2 separate regions of the Homo sapiens genome follow, and region 2 is linked to region 1. A link means that fine-mapping ties the variant in region 1 to the expression of a gene that starts in the linked region. Tissue or cell type: whole blood. Region 1 holds a variant in brackets; the other region holds the start of a gene. All regions are shown on one strand. Distances are between the middles of the regions.

The links. PIP is the estimated chance that this variant, and not a neighbour inherited with it, causes the effect.
Region 2: it holds the start of TM6SF1, and the variant in region 1 is fine-mapped to the expression of TM6SF1 in whole blood (INTERVAL, PIP above 0.99).

The regions. Positions count from the first base shown.
Region 1 is chr15:82,381,517-82,389,779 of GRCh38, reverse strand. It overlaps the pseudogene UBE2Q2P2. Among named protein-coding and RNA genes, the nearest start is that of GOLGA6L10, 36 kb to the right of the region's middle. The variant G/TTG (reference allele first, on the strand shown) is at 3,128.
Region 2 is chr15:83,104,000-83,111,999 of GRCh38, reverse strand. It overlaps TM6SF1 (transmembrane 6 superfamily member 1), which reads right to left and starts at 4,355. Exons shown (of 10, transcript NM_023003.5): 1 at 4,228-4,355. The coding sequence starts at 4,319. RefSeq lists silencers at 4,298-4,417, 4,448-4,727.

The sequences.
Region 1 (8,263 bases):
GGTGCAGGACACCAACATGGCACATGTATACATATGTAACAAACCTGAACGTTATGCAAATGTACCCTAGAACTTAAAGTATAATAATAATAATAAAAAGAATGTGTAAGCAAAAACTCAGTTATAAAAAAAAAAAAAAACCCAATTCCCCCTAAGAAAGAAAAAGAGGTGGAGTCCTTTAAAAATTAACTGTCTGTTTTTCTGAGGCTAGTGAACCTTATCTCTCCTCGTCTCCCAGGCATTGTGAAGACCCTGATTCTCTAGCTGTGCAGCTGCAAGGTCACTAGACAGATAAACTCAGTCGAAAAACAGGTTTTTCCTTGAAAAGTAAGAAATAATGTAATGCATGTCTCAACTGAATAACTGTCTTTGTTTCTTGCTTCTGTAATATGCCTCCCCCTGCACAGATCTCCCCCGACCCGATAAAATGTTTAAAAGGTAACCTGACTCTTTGTTCAGGGCTCAGTCCTTTAGATGTTAAATTTGACTGGGCCGGTGCACCTAAATAATAATAATATATATCCTCCTCAACCCTTCAGTCTCTCTGATTCCTAAATTATCCCGCTGCAGGGGGAGAGAGGGAGCAGGGTAGTGGAGTCATACCAAGCAACAAGAAAGACAGGGTAGTGGCCAGGAGTTCGAGACCAGCCTGGTGAACATGATGAAACCTCATCTCTACTAAAAATACAAAAATTAGCTGGGCATGGTGGCAGGTGCCTGTAATCCCAGCTACTCAGGAGGTTGAGGCAGGAGAATCACTTGAACCCAGGAGATGGAGGTTGCAGTGAGCCGAGATTGTGCCATTGTACTCCAGCCTGGGCGACAAGAGCGAGACTTCATTGAAAGAAAGAAAGAGAGAGAGAGAGAAAGAGAGAAAGAAAGAAAGGAAGAAAGACAGGGTAGTACATTTTCCACGAATTTCAATTTTACTCTCTTCCCCCACCACACACACACAAAAAGCATTTGAGGGATGGGAAGAAGAAACTGAGATCACAGGGAAAATAGTAAGAGACATTTAGAAGGACAGGTCTTAGAAACGTACTTTGGGGGGGAGGTCAGAGAACAGTAGCATATAAAAGAACGCTAAGACAGTTCCCAGGTTGAGGCATGGGTGACTAGTTTGATTATTTCATTTTGTCCCACTCACAATGACAAGGACAATTACTGATGGGACACATGATGGGGCTGATAGAGTGCTAGGAGGTGAATACATGAAAATTTAAATACCATCATTTTGAACACCCATGTCACTCCAAGTGAGATTCCCTAACATATATGATATACAGACAGATATATGGGTTTGAAACTCCGGAGATGAATACAAATTTAGGAGTCCCTGGAACACAGGTCATGACTTAAGTAATGGGAGTCAAAGATTACTCAGAGAAAGCACAGAATGAGAAGAGAAGAAAGAAGTAGGACAAGGAAGAAGAGATCGGAGGAGACCAAGGCAGGGTGATAAGATCAAAACAGGAGAAAACAATCTGATAAAAGTCCCATTCGACTATCATGTCCCTTCCCAGAGGACAGGGACATGCCTTTTTTGTCTTTTATACCCAACTATCAACTATCACAGGTCCTGGCACAGAAGCCACACAGTCTTTTTTAATTGTGTTCTACTACTCACAATTTCCTGTATCCACCAGGGGAGAAAAAAGTAAGTATAAACTAGCACAGACATAGATTTTTTTACACTGTATACTAAAGAGGTCAGATTATACACAATATTTTATGCCTTACTTTTTTACTTAATACATCTTAGAAGTTTGCACATGCTTTTATGGAAAGACTGGCTGCATTTTTTTTGGTCTATAACAGAATATTCTATTATAAAACTGTACACTATAATTTTTATTTAACCAACTCTTTGCTGGTGGACATTAAGAACGGAGGAATGTTTCAACAAAGGAACAATCAACATTAACAAAATACTGCAGAGGAGTCAATTTGTGGACTAAGAGGGGAGCCACTGGATTTGGAAACGAGGAGATAAATTTTAGCGCAAAGATGAAGGCAGAATCCAGATTATAATGAGTTCAGTGAAAAAAGGTGAAGACATGTAGCTTATTCTCTCAAGAAACTAGGCTATGATAAACTGGCAGAGGCTGTAAGAGTGGGAAGTGAGTTGTTTTCTCCTTCATGTAAATATATTTATTGTTTTAAACACTAGGCCCAATTTTATATCCTACTTCATTTAACTTTTGAACATGTTTATGTATGTATGTATTTCATGTAATGTTTTAGACACTGAAAAAAACCTCATTTCTGCTATTATAAAACTGTTATCTTTAGATATTCAGAAGCAACTTCCTAAAAGGAGGTAGCAGTAATGGAGCTATGTCTATCAGTCTTTCCCATCAACCCCCTTGCTGGAGATGTAAACATGTGTCCATCAAGCCTTTAATTTTCACCTCTTATCTTCATGGCTCTCCATACAAAACTTAACTCTTTTTTTGTATCTCTATATGTATATTTATATGTATATCTATATCTAGAGAGAGAGAGTCTTGCTATGTTGCCCAGGCTGATCTCAAACTCCTGGGCTCAAGCAATCCTCCCAACTTGGCCTTGAAAGTGCTGGGATTACAGGCGTGAACCACTGTGCCCAGCCTCAGCCTTAACTCTTAAAATATCTTCAAATCGATGTTCTTCTGTTCTAATTTTTAAGAATAGATGTGTTTAAACCAACTACAACTTATTTTGACAAAAATTGGAGTTAAGACTCAAACTTCCTCAAATGGCCAGTTCTCCTAAAACTATTTACAGAATAATCTGTCTTTTCACTACTAAGTTAAAGCACCACCTTTTCCTTACACTAAATTCTCATTTGCATGACTCTGGTTCTAAACTTTCATTGCCTTTATCTGTCTGGCCCAGGGCTAGTCCACAATATTTTATTTAATATCTGGTTGAAAGAGTCTATACTTTATTAATTTTTATTATTTACTCTTCTAAACAAATTTTAGAGTCATTTTGTCAAATGCCAAAAATAAATCTGCTGGAATTTCTACTGAAATTTGTATATATACATATATATACAAAATTTATATATAAATATATATATGAAATATAAAATGTGTATATATATACACCCTTTTTTTTCCTGTGTGTTTTTTTTTTTTTTTTT[G/TTG]AGACAGGGTCTTATTCTGTCACCTAGGCTGGAGTTCAGAGGCAGATCTCGGCTCACTGCAACCTCTGCCTCCCAGGCTCAAGTGATCCTCCCACCTCGGCCTCAGAAGTAGTTGGAACAAGTGTGTGCCACAGACACCCAGCTAATTGTCATCTACCCACTTCAGCTTCCCAAACTGTTCAGATTACAGGTATGAGCCACTGTGCCCAGCAGAAATTACATTTATAAATTAATATGAAGACATGGTGATAACATATTTATAACATGAAATCTGCTCATTCAGGAACATAGAATGCAAATCTTTCATTCCTCTCAGCAAAATTTTGTCATGTCCTTGATAAAAGCCCTGCACATCTAAGTTTATTCCTAGGTATTTAATTTTTGCTGAAATACCTGAAAAAATACTTCATCACTATATGTTCTATGTGATTATAGCTAACATTGGGGAAGGCTATTGATTTTTATATAAAAGAACTTTTAACCAGTAATCTTAAAAATTGTTTTTTTTCAGTTGGTTCCTTTGGATATTTTTAGGTAAACAATCATGTCAACTGAAAATAATGATTGTTATTTTTCTATAAAGACTATGACATCATGGGAAAATACAGTAAATACTTTTTAAAAGAATATAAAAGGGCTGGGCACAGTGGCTCACGCCTGTAATCCCAGCACTTTGGGAGGCCAAGGTGGGCAGATCACGCGGTCAGGAGATCCAGACCATCCTGGCTAACATGGTGAAACCCCATCTCTACTAAAAAATACAAAAAATTAGCCGGGAATGGTGGCGGGCGCCTGTAGTCCCAGCTACTGGGGAGGCTGAGGCAGGAGAATGGTGTGAACCCAGGAGGTGGAGCTTCCAGTGAGCTGAGATCACGCCACTGCATTCCAGCCTGGGCGACAAAGTGAGACTCCGCGTCAAAAAAAAAAAAAAAAAAAGAATATAAACCTATGGAGAATACGACCTCAACTATTTAAACATATATGTAAGGGTTATGTATTTTACCAGCAAAGAAAAAACATATACTGGTAGAAAATGGCCATCATGTCAACTGTCAATAGTGGTTATATTAGGTAAAGAAATTATGGGAGACTTTAATTTTTTTCTTTTTTCTGTACTTTACTAATTTTCTCAACAATGGTTGCTTATGAGTTTTATAATTTAAAAAAAGGTTTTTAAAATTTTTTCAACATGGAAAGTTATATTTCTTTATATACTAAAACAAAAACAAAACTTTCTATTTGAATACCTATGGCAAAACCCTGTATCTACAAAAAATACAAAAAATTAGCTAGGTGGAGTAGTACACACCTGTAGTCCCAGCTACTCTGGAGGCTGAGGTGGGAGGAGCACCTGAGTCCCCAGAGAATGAGGCTCCAGTGAGCCGTGATCATAGCACTGCATTCCAGCCTGGGAGACAGAGAAAGACCCCATCTCAAAAATAAAAAAAAATAAAAAATAAAAAATATCCATAAGGATCTAAAATGCCTATCTGTATGAGATTGTTCTTTGTTCACATTTTTTCAAGCAAATATCACACAATAAATTGAATGCAGGTGCAAATGACATATCAAACATCAACGAAATTTGCAAAAGGTGTAAGATTGTACTACTTTGGGTTTAGAAATTTTCTTTTCATAAAAGCATTTATAACAAAATTTGGTGAGCTTTTAAGGAATATTTTAAGTATTTCTGATTTAATTTTTAGTGATAAATACCAATAGATATAACCTATATACAGAAAAGCTCCTTGGGCCCTCAATATACTTTTAAGAGTGTAAAGGAATCCTGACCCCAAAACTTTGAGAACTGCTGCCTTCCCCTCCACTTTCTTCCTTCCCTAGAATTTCTTCCCTGGAAGAAACATTCCTTTGTCATTCTATGTTAACTTACATAGTTCCATTGAGGCCAGTTTTGCTACCTCCCTCCCATCTTTCCACATTCCTCTCTTGACACAAAACCTGACCAAAGGACTCTACCGGCCCACCTCATTTCCAGTGATTAGCTGTCAGGTGGGCTAAGCCAAGAAAATCTGGGTTTTCCCTGAGACTAGACCTCTCTTTCTGGAAGATACGGAATCACAAGGACAAGGTTGGCCACCTACGGGTAGTGAGAATTCATCTTGCCTAAATGGGAAGAGGTTAGGCAAGTTTCTAGAATGCCAGACTGCTTTCTAGAAAGTCAAAGATAATTATACTTTCTGCCACGACTGTGAAAATGCCCATTTCATTGCACGCTTTCTAACATTTATACCAATCTGATAAATAAAAGCTGGTACCTAGAAGAAAAAAAGGCTGGGTATGGTGGCTTATGCCTGTAATCCCAGTAGTTTAGGAGGCCAAGGTGAGTGGATCACCTGAGGTCAGGAGTTCGAGACAAGCCTGGCCAACATGATGAAACCCCATCTCTAGTAAAAAGACAAAAATTAGCCGGGCATGGTGGCAAGCACCTGTAATCCCAACTACTCGGGAGGCTGAGGCAAGAGAATCACTTGAACCTGGGAGGCAGAGATTGCAGTGAGCCAAGATCATGCCATTGCTCTCCAGCCTGGGCGACAAGGTGAGACTTTGTCTCAAAAAAAAAAAAAAAAAGTTTCCATACAATATAATTTGTTCCATCTCTAAAAACCAATTCAGCAATAACTGAAAGCCACCACTTGGAAGGTTTCAAGGATTTAGCTCTACCTGTTGATGTCCAAAGCATTAGTTAAGGTAGAAAAAAAATACACACACACACACACACACACACTCTCTCTCTCTCTCTCTCTCTCTCTCTCTCTCACCCTTATGTAGTCAGTACCAGGAAACATGAAAGACTAGATGGTATAGTTATCCAACACAAAGCACACAATAACTGAAGGCACTGTAGAGGAATAACTTATGACACAGATCTACAATATTGTTGAGTGAAAATGCAGATTATAATAAAAAATCTGATTTTTTTAAGGGAGAGGGAACACATACAAGCAAAGGAGAAAAGAGATGAGCAGATGACTGAAAGATACAAAATTCTGATAGTGGTACATTCTGAGTGGTAGAATTATTGGTATTATTTTCTAGCTTTGCCTAAAAATTTTCTAAATTTCTTAAAATAAGAACTTTTTGTTATCCATATTATCAAATATCCATCACCCCAGGAAACTTAACCTTGAGCACAAACTCTACAACAAGTTCAATGTTTGTTCAGTTTAATATTTAAGAGACAACCTACTTTGAAAGACATCTAAAATGATGACCAATATTTAAACCTATGCATTAATATTTTTCAATCGTATGCTTTACATTTTGTAATTTTGATAAGGTTAAGCTTTATATCCATCTTGAAAAGGTAAGTTTTCTATTTGTCTTTAAAATATTACCTAGAATATGCCTGTTTTTAAACAGTGAATGATGCTCTAAAATCACAATATAAATTCAGGCAGTGTTCCTTACATGGAATGTTTAAGTACTTCTAACACTGCTCTTTTTCACTTGTTATGAAAACACAGAACAATTATCCAAGCATCTAATTATTCAGGTCCTTTGTTTCTCCTCCATTCTATTAGTTTTATAGTAATTTTAGGGCCTGTGAGGATGAAGTTGTCTGTGACAGCTACCACAAAGGTTACCATAAGTGGACAAATTTCCAACAAGTTTATCATCACTACCATCCCCATCATAAAACTGTCTCTATCAAGGGCAACACAATTCAAGGTTAGCCAAGACAACCTCTTTACCTGTCACTGCTTAAGAAAAGGATTTTTTGGTCTTATTTAGAAATAACTTTCTGTACCTACTTTTCTCCACAAATCCACTGAGACCAGTGTGTGGCTCTATCTCAAGCACCAGCAAGCAAAACGGCCTGCTAGAAGGTTCAGTTTTTGTATCTTTCCAAATGTAGAACACAGCTATCTTCAGGGATTTCATAATTTTTTGAAAATTGATGCACAAACTTCTTGAAAGTTCAGAGATACAGCAGCTGTAATTCTTCTGAAGGCTGGTTATGGGACGCGTTACCTTCACACTTTCCTGTTCAATAACTGTGGGGTGGAGAATCAAGTAAACTGACAGAATTTCCACATAAAATTCGAAGTGCTCTGACAACAAAAGAAACTTAAAATACACACACACACACACACACACACACACACACACACACACACACACACGGTTTTCCCTGCTAATCATTTTACAACTAAACAACCAAGTTGCTAACCCAGAGCCCACAAAAGCAGAGTCAAAGTTCTAACACTTGGTAAAAGAAAAATGCATACATACCCCTGTGAGCTAAAATAAAATGCTTAAGTATTCAAAGACAGACAGCAATTACAGCTACTGAGAACATCATTGTAAGCAAACTGAGGCAGAGAAAACGAACCTGCTGATGAGGATTTGAAACACCTAAGCTGCAGAAACCCACTGGATGGTTTCCTAGGTTCTGAGTTGGCATTATCTTTCAGCACGATCTTCTAGAAGAGATCACATAACACTGTTACAAAGGATCTGGAGAAAGGGACCCTGGCTTCATCACTCTGGCTCTCCAGTCATGCTTTACATTTGGCAGTGACTATCTCCATTCAACTCAATTCCCTAACCCTAAACTAGCTGACATTTATCAAATACTGCCCTTTACCAGGTCTAAGTAAGTTTAACTCCCCCGACTCCCACCAAAAAAAATCAAGATACTAAGGGATATACTATTCACAAAAGGGAAACCTGTCTCCTCTTCATATACCTGTTCCTTTCAAGGAAGGCTATAAAAATGGGGATGAGAGAGGATAACCACTAGGAATTTGACTCTATATTATAAATTCAGATAAATGAAAACAATAATTCCTCTGGACTCAAAGTGATATGGCTCTGATGACTGGAGAAACATCGGGGTCCTTTGTGTCACGTCAGTTAAACGATATGGACACACAGGAGTGGTTTTAAGGAACAGAAAGTTTAATAGGCAAGAAAGAAGAAAGGCTCCCTGCGGTACAGAAAAAGGGGGGCTCCGAACAGAGAAAAAGCCCCGTGTGTGGCAGAACAGTACTCGGTTATATTGGGAGGCTGGAGGAGGTGGTGTCTGATTTGCACAGGGACCAGGGTATTGGTTTGACCAGGCAGGTCATTCATGCAGCCCGAGAAAAACGTGGCCCTCCCACCCTAGCCTTT
Region 2 (8,000 bases), 720 kb before region 1:
CTGTTGCTAACTGTGTCACCCTAGGAAAGTCACATCATTGCATCTATCTGTTTATTAATTAATTCAAAAACATAGCAAGCAAAAAAATGTATTCTGCACCCCTATGTGGTAGCCATTGTTGCAGGCCCTAGGAGACTGGATAAATAAGAGAAGTCCCTGCCTACATGGAGGAACCTATCTCAATGGACTCTGAGCTCTACCCACTAGGAGTTCTCCTGCAGTCCAACAGCAATACTCTCCCTCTCACACCTCCAGCACTGACAGGGCTTCCAATTCTAGACAAAATACTACCTGGCCCACTCCAATGGCCTGCTACACCAGGACCTCTTCAGATTGGAGCAGCTACAAGCACCACTCCTCAACTGAGACCCCTCCACACCACCACAGCCCAACATCGGGACCTTTGGATAACTATCACCGTCCCCTAGGAGAGAGAAAGATAAGAATAGAAGGAGGGAGGGAAGGGGGGAACAAATAGACGATGAGTGGATGGATAGATGGATGGATGATGGGTGAATGGTTGGATGGATGATGGATGAAAGGATGGATAGATGATGGATGAATGGATAGATGATGGATGAATGGATGGATGGATGATGGGTGAATGGGTGGATGATGGGTGAATAGATGGATGGATGATGGATGAATTGATGGATGATGGAGGATGATGGATAAATGGATGGATGGATGATGGATGAATTGATGGATGATGGAGGATGATGGATAAATGGATGGATAGATGATGATGAGTGGATGGATGGAGTATGGGTGAATGTATGGAGGATGGATGGATAAATGATAGATGGATCAATTCTATGATAAGAATGAGGCCGGGCGCAGTGGCTCACACCTGTAATCCAAGCACTTTGGGAGGTCGAGGCGGGTGGATCACCCGAGGTCAGGAGTTGGAGACCAGCCTGGCCAACATGGTGAAACCCCGTCTCTACTAAAAATACAAAAAATTAGCCAGGCGAGGTGGCGGATGCCTGTAATCCCCGCTACTTGGGAGGCTGAGGCAGTAGAATTGCTTGAACCTGGGGGTTGGAGGCTGCAGTGAGCCAAGATTGCACCACTGCAGTCCCGCTTGGATGACAGAGCAAGAGTCCGTCTCAAAAAATAATAACAATTAATTACATTTTTTAAAAAAGAATGAGGGTGGCTGTTTCAATGTCCAGGTGAGAAACTGAAAAATAGGAGGTTTCTGGTGATTGCACTTCAGTGGTTGCTCCAGGCTCCTCCTGTGGGGATGAGCTGAAGAAGGAGGAAGCCAGTGTGGGTCAAGAGTATGATGCTGGGCTGAAGAATCCCATGAGGGAAGAGGTGGGTGTGCTGGGTCAGCTGACAGGCATTTTAATGGTGAACAGCCTGAGGCAGGTGGTGGTCAGGTGACAACTCCAGTCTTCACTCCTACCAAGGGCCTGCACTCACTGCCAGCAGGATCGCGTGGTTGGTGCTCTTCTGGAGCAGGACAGAGCAGTGTGAACTGGTTCACAGCGTCCTCTCATGCTCTTAGCTCCAGGAGAGGAGGGAAGAATGAAGGGAAACTAGGGCAGCAGATTGTCTCTGACTCTTGGCACTGTCCCCAGAGACCCTCCTACAACAGCCAAGTGCAGGACCTGCTCACCACAGGAAGAAACAGGTCCTGCAGGGACTCAGGGACAGGTAAGGGCTGCGACTAACCCCAGGATGAGAAAGTTGCTAGTCTTGGGGGGTGGGAAGGGCTGCTGATGCCCTTCTATGAACAGACACCTACTGAGAGGGGACATGCAAGGATGAGTGTGAGCAGTGTGTCTCTCTCAGTGAGAGAGGGAGACAGAACACGCTCAATCCTTTCCTGACCTCTCAATCTAATTTTCTTTTTCTGGTTTTCAGAGTTGCATAAAAGGTTTGGTGGGAAGGAAACTCGATTCAACAAAGTCAAACATACCTGAGTGCCTACGATGCACACGGCGCTGGCCTGGGCAGGACAGTACAGAGGGGTGAGCTATAGCCGGGGCAGGTAAGTTCTTACCACAGGAAAGTAACTCTCGGGAGAAAGGTGCAAACAAGGGACTGAGGGAGCTCAAAGGAGAGAGAGGGAGGGTCTGCAGAAGGTAGAAGTGGCCATAAAGTCCAGGTGCGGCTTCAACAGTCTGCGATAGGAGGAAGGCAGCATCCCTGTCAGGGAGCAGCAGGAGTCCGGGCTAGAGGCTGGAGAGGAGGAGGAATGGTCAAGGAGCAAAGGCAGGCTGGTGCGGCAGGAGCACTAGTGCGTGGGCTGGGACTGGGGGGCCGAGGCCGAGAAACACGCAGCGGGGCTGGGCAGCGAGACTTGCACCGGAGCCTTTGCCACAGTCCAGGTCAGAAAGGGCCAGTGCCAGGGAGAACTGAAAGGAGGGAACAGACACTAGAGCCCCAGGACTTATGGGGAAGCAGACAGTAGGAGGAAGGGAGTGGAGAAAGAAGAGAGGAATCAAAGGCCACGGGGGTTTTAACCTGCAAGAGGACAGGAAGAATGGCTGACACTAATTATTCAAAATGCTGTAGTGCTTGCCAGTGCGCTCCATCATGCACAGCAATACATAGTTCAGTCTGTATTCAGTAAATGCCATCACCATCTTCCCAGTGGCTGAGGCCAAAACCTAGGGCTCATCCTCAAATCCTCTGCTGCCATGCAACCCTCTTCAGTAAGCCCCATCTGTTCACCTTCCAAAATACCTACTACGCCCATCCAATTCCTTCCCCTGCACTGCTCCATTTTCCTGCCCGACAGGCTCCATTCCCAGATCTTCCCATAGCTCAAGTGTTACCTCCTCCTAGAAGCCTTCCCTGGCCACCAGCCCCCTCCCCAGTCACCCTATTTTATTATCTTCATAGCATGTCACTATCGATGTATTAATGTTTGTTGATGTCTATCTCATTACCTGCCTCCACAGCCTCTTCTGGCTTGTTCATAGCTATGTCACCAACACTTGGAACAGTGCCAAACACACAGTAGGCACTCAGTATATCTTCACTGAACTACCCGTAATGCCATTTTTTGGAGCACAGGGTCCCCCATGCACTATATTGACAGGCATGTAATATTCGGTGGCCCAGAGCAGCTGCCTCCAGGGGATGCCTCCAGAGACTGGGCCAGACCAAGGGTAGACACTGCTGGTGCCTGGTGAGCACTCAGTGTGGGTGCTGCCTGTATCAGGCGGCCAGGCAGCTGGAGAGGAGGAAGTTACCACCCTATGTACAGACACTCCACGGCCTGACCAGCTGAAGGGGGTTTGCAGCCTACAGACTGATGCAATTTCCTTAGCACCAACAGCTGAGAGACATAGCAGGTTACTTCCTCCTCCCTCCAGACAGCAACCAACATCAGCAGGAACAGAGGCTGGCGCCTGTCCCAACACCCGGCGACCCTCAGGCCTTCAGCTGCCGGCTGCAGGTTAGTCCGTGATCCCTGCAGTGGAGTGGGAGGCAGGGCTTCGAACCCAAGCCCTGTCCCCCTCCATCAGCCCCACCCATTTCCTTCACATTGAAGTGTTCTGCCTCTGCTGCCTGTCCCCATCCTACCCCAGCGCAGGCACTGGGAAGCACTTCTCCATTCACAACGCCCCTTCACAAAGAGGTCTCGGTGGAACCTTACAATAGGACGCACACAAAGTCCACTTGACCGGAAAACCGAGGCCAGACCACACCGTCAGTGCCAAACACCGTCAGGCCAGACACCGTCAGTGCCAAAGCCAGGCCTAGAACCCACGTCTCTGCCTGTTGGTTCCGGGCTATTTCTGCTAGTCATTCACAACAGTTTCTAAAATTAATAAGAAATGATAAGTATGCGAAAGTCCATACATGGAAACGTTCCCGTGAGATGCAAAAAGAACAAGGCACAAACGAGCTGACACGGCCAGGTTCGTAGTGTCCGTGTTTGTTCCGCTCCCCACCGGCCCCTGGGCCCCTCCAGGGCAGGGGCATGGCCGTATTGACGCCTGTGACCCCGGGCACCTGGCGCGGTGCTGGCACCAACATCCCGAAATGCGCCAGCCTGGGCACCTCAGGGCCCGGCTCCAAGACCCGGCCCGTGCGACCCCTGGGGCGCCCCCCTAGTCTGGCCAGGCGCGGGGAGCCCCTGCGGCCACGAACCTCTGTCCCGCGGCGGACGGTCCCAGCCCCCTCGGAAAAGTTGCGAGGCTCCCGTCGCGGCGAGCCAACTCCCGCCGCCCCTCGGCGCGACCCCCGCCGCGCCGGCTCACTCACTCATGCTGGGCCGCCAGGTGGTTGAAGACATAGGTGACCGGGATGGCCGAGAGGGACAGCACGAAGACCCCGGTGGCCGCAGAGGCACTCATCGCAGCCGCCGCGCCGCTCGCCCTTCACCGCATCCCGCTGGGCGCCCCGCCCCAGCTTCCGGCGGCGCCCGCGCCCCCTTGGCGCTTGCCCTTCGAGGCGCCTCAGCCGCGCCCCCCGCGTGGCGCCCTCAGCGGCGTCCCCTCAGCGGTGTCTCCTCCGCGCGCCCTCCCAGCCCGCAGCCGTCCCCCGCGCCTGGCCCCGTCGCCCCAAGTGCGCAGGGCCGCGGTGCAGTCCCGGGAGGCGTCCTTGCAGTGCTCCTGCCAGGGGCGCCACGGCTCAGCGGCAAGCGCCCGGCGGCGCCGAGGGGCGGCGACACCCCCGCGCAGGGACAGGTGCCCCTGGCGGCGCGCGCTCCGAGGGAGGGCCCGGGGCACGGCCGGGAACCGGTCATCGAAGAGCTGGAGAGGCGCGGGGCTGAGCTGCGGTCCGGGAAAGGTGGAACCAGATCCGAGGGTGTCAGAGGAGGAAGGGCCCGCGGGATCGTCTATGGGGGAGCCCACGGCCCAGAAGTGGGAAAGGACAAAATGCCCCTGAAACCTCGGAACCTCTCCGCTCCAGTAGCCATCGGCGGGCTGCTGCACGGAGCCGGCATCCGGTTTTTAAACCTGGCTCTCCAGTCACCAGCTGTTGACTTTGGTCAAATTACTTAACCTCTCTGTCTTTTCCCTTATCTGGGAAATGGGGATAACACACTTCATAGTGTGACTGTGGGGTTAACTGAGTTCATACCTACGAAGCGCGTTATCCTGTGCTGCTCACTACACCACCTCCTGCGATTCTTTTTTTTTTTTTTTCTTTAATTGAAATGGACATAAATGCTGAGACTCTAAGAGACTAGAGCGCCATTCATTGCTATTCCAGGAAGCATTCCTGGAGGCCAGGTGCCCACCAGCCAGCCTGCATTGGGCCCTGCAGGGTACAAAGACTGGAAGATAAGCCTCTTCCTCTGAATGATAGATGCCTACGGGTATGGAAAATATTGTGTGTCAAGTGTTGTGGCTATCTGAAGGGCAGTGAGTTCCAGGAGAACAGCTCAAGCAACTGAGGGAGGTACCGGCATGTACTTACTGTCTTTACAACTTCCAGGGAATTTAAGAGACCATTTATGTGTTTTTGCTGTTGCCATTTGAGGGGTTTATTTTATTTATTTATTTATTTATTTATTTATTATTTTTATTTTTTTTTTTTTTTGAGACAGAGTCTCGCTCTGTCACCCAGGCTGGAGTGCAGTGGTGCAATCTTGGCTCACTGCAAGCTCCACCTCCCGGGGTTCACGCCATTCTGCCTCAGCCTCCAGAGTAGCTGGGACTACAGGTGCCCGCCACCGCGCCGGGCTAATTTTTTGTATTTTTAGTAGAGACGGGGTTTCACCGTGGTCTTGATCTCCTGACCTCGTGATCCGCCCGCCTCGGCCTCCCAAAGTGCTGGGATTACAGGCGTGAGCCACCGCGCCCAGCCTATTTTTATTTTTATTTTTTTAAGACAGGGTCTCACTCTGCAAACCAGGCTAGAGGCAGTGGAGAGATGAGGGCTCACTGCAGTCCCCACTTTCCCACGCCAAGCCATCCTCCCAGCTTAGCCTCCTTAGCTCCTGGGACTACAGTCTCGCACCACTTCTTTGTAGAGGCAGGGTCTCACTATGTTGCCCAAGCTGGTCTCAAACTCCTGGGCTCAAGTGATCCTCCCTCCTCGGCCTCCCAAAGTGCTGGGATTACAGGTGTGAGCCACCGCACCTAGCCTCTAAAAGACCATTTGGCTCATTTTAGACATGAGGAAAATGAGCTACGAGGAGGTATGGCCTGCTCCAGGGCCACTCCACTTTTCAAATGCCAGTTCTCCTAATCCTTCATCCTAGTTCTTCTTGAAGGCTTCTCCAGCTCTGAGTGCATAACGTTTAAGCCTTGGCCCACACTGTGACATATCCAAAGTTTCTCCAAGAGGTGTCCTCACCTGTCACCTGCACATCACCCTCTTCCACCCCTAACCTTCACCACTCTCCTTAAACTCCTACTTCCTCCCTGACAAGAGACACTTCCTCCTATACCTCTGAGCTCCCAGCCAGGCTCCCAAGCCAGCCCATCCCTTCCATCAACACCCAACCTTGTTGCATCAGTCTCAGAGCTGCTCCCTCAGAGCCCACAAGGGACCCAAGTGACATGGCAAAGTTTCAAGGTATTGTGATATACATATTGGGAATTACATGATTTTTTTGTTGACAACAGTTTCTCTTTTTTTTTTTTTTTTTTTTTTTTTTTTTTTTTTTTTTTTGAGATGGAGTCTCGCTCTGTCACCCAGGCTGGAGTGCAGTGGCGGGATCTCGGCTCACTGCAAGCTCCGCCTCCCGGGTTCACGCCATTCTCCTGCCTCAGCCTCCCAAGTAGCTGGGACTACAGGCGCCCGCCACTACGCCCGGCTAATTTTTTGTATTTTTAGTAGAGACGGGGTTTCACCGTTTTAGCCGGGATGGTCTCGATCTCCTGACCTCGTGATCCGCCCGCCTCGGCCTCCCAAAGTGCTGGGATTACAGGCGTGAGCCACCGCGCCCGGCCAGTTTCTCTCTTAATGCTGAAAATATGAGTGGTCAGAATGCTTGTAGTTGGGAAGAGTTTTTCGCAGGAACCTTCCCTGGCTTTTGGGATAAGTGAACCCCTCTGGCTGCCCTGGATCCTTCCGCTCAACCTAGACACAGGCTCAAGTAGCTTCCAATTTAGAAATCTGCTCCCTGAACCTGAGTGTCCTGGGTTTTTTTTGTTTGTTTGTTTTTTGTTTGTTTGTTTGTTTTTGAGACAAAGTCTCGCTCTTTCACTCAGGCTGGAGTGAAGTGGCACAATCTCAGCTCACTGCAACCTCTGCCCTGCCCCCCGCCGGGTTCAAGCAATTCTGCCTCAGCCTCCCAAGGAACTAGGATTACAGGTGCCCGCCACCATACCCGGCTAATTTTTGTATTTTTAGTATAGATGGGGTTTCATCATGTTGGCCGGGCTGGTCTCAAACTCCTGAACTCAGGTGATCCACCCGCCTCCATCTCCCAAAGTGCTGGGATTACAGGTGTGAACCACCACACCTGGCCCTGAGTGTCCTCTTTTGCCTACCATCTTCTCTTGTTTCTTTCTCAGACACACTTGGTTTTAATGGCCACATCTATGATGCTAGATCCCAAATAACAAGCCCTGACCTGTTATTCCCTTAGCATGGCTGCCTGGGCATCCCGGTGGCACCTCACAATGTCAAAACAGAATTCCTCATTTCCTCAAGACACACTCCTGCTTTATTTTATCTGGTGGCACCACAATTCGCCCACTCACCCAAGCCAGAAGCCTGGGAGCCATCAGTTCCCACCTCTCCGGAATTCCTTTTGTTACACAATTCTCCCAGTGTGACTTTCCAAATATCACTCAAGTCTGTTTGCTCCTCCCCATCCGCACCTCCTCTTAGTTTTGGTCTATACTGCCTCTCATCTAAACATGTCCTAGTCTCCTCCCTCTGATTCCTGCCTCTGACCTCAGTTGACTCAGCTGCTGTAGAAGGCCTTACCTGACCACCCTCCTGAACTTTCGCCTATCAAGCGCCCTGCTTTATTTGATTCAGAGTACTTTTACTATCTAAAATTATCTGGCTTACGCCTTTGTTTACTGGTCTGGATCTCTCCTCCATGATAATGGAAGCTCCTCGAGGTTGGG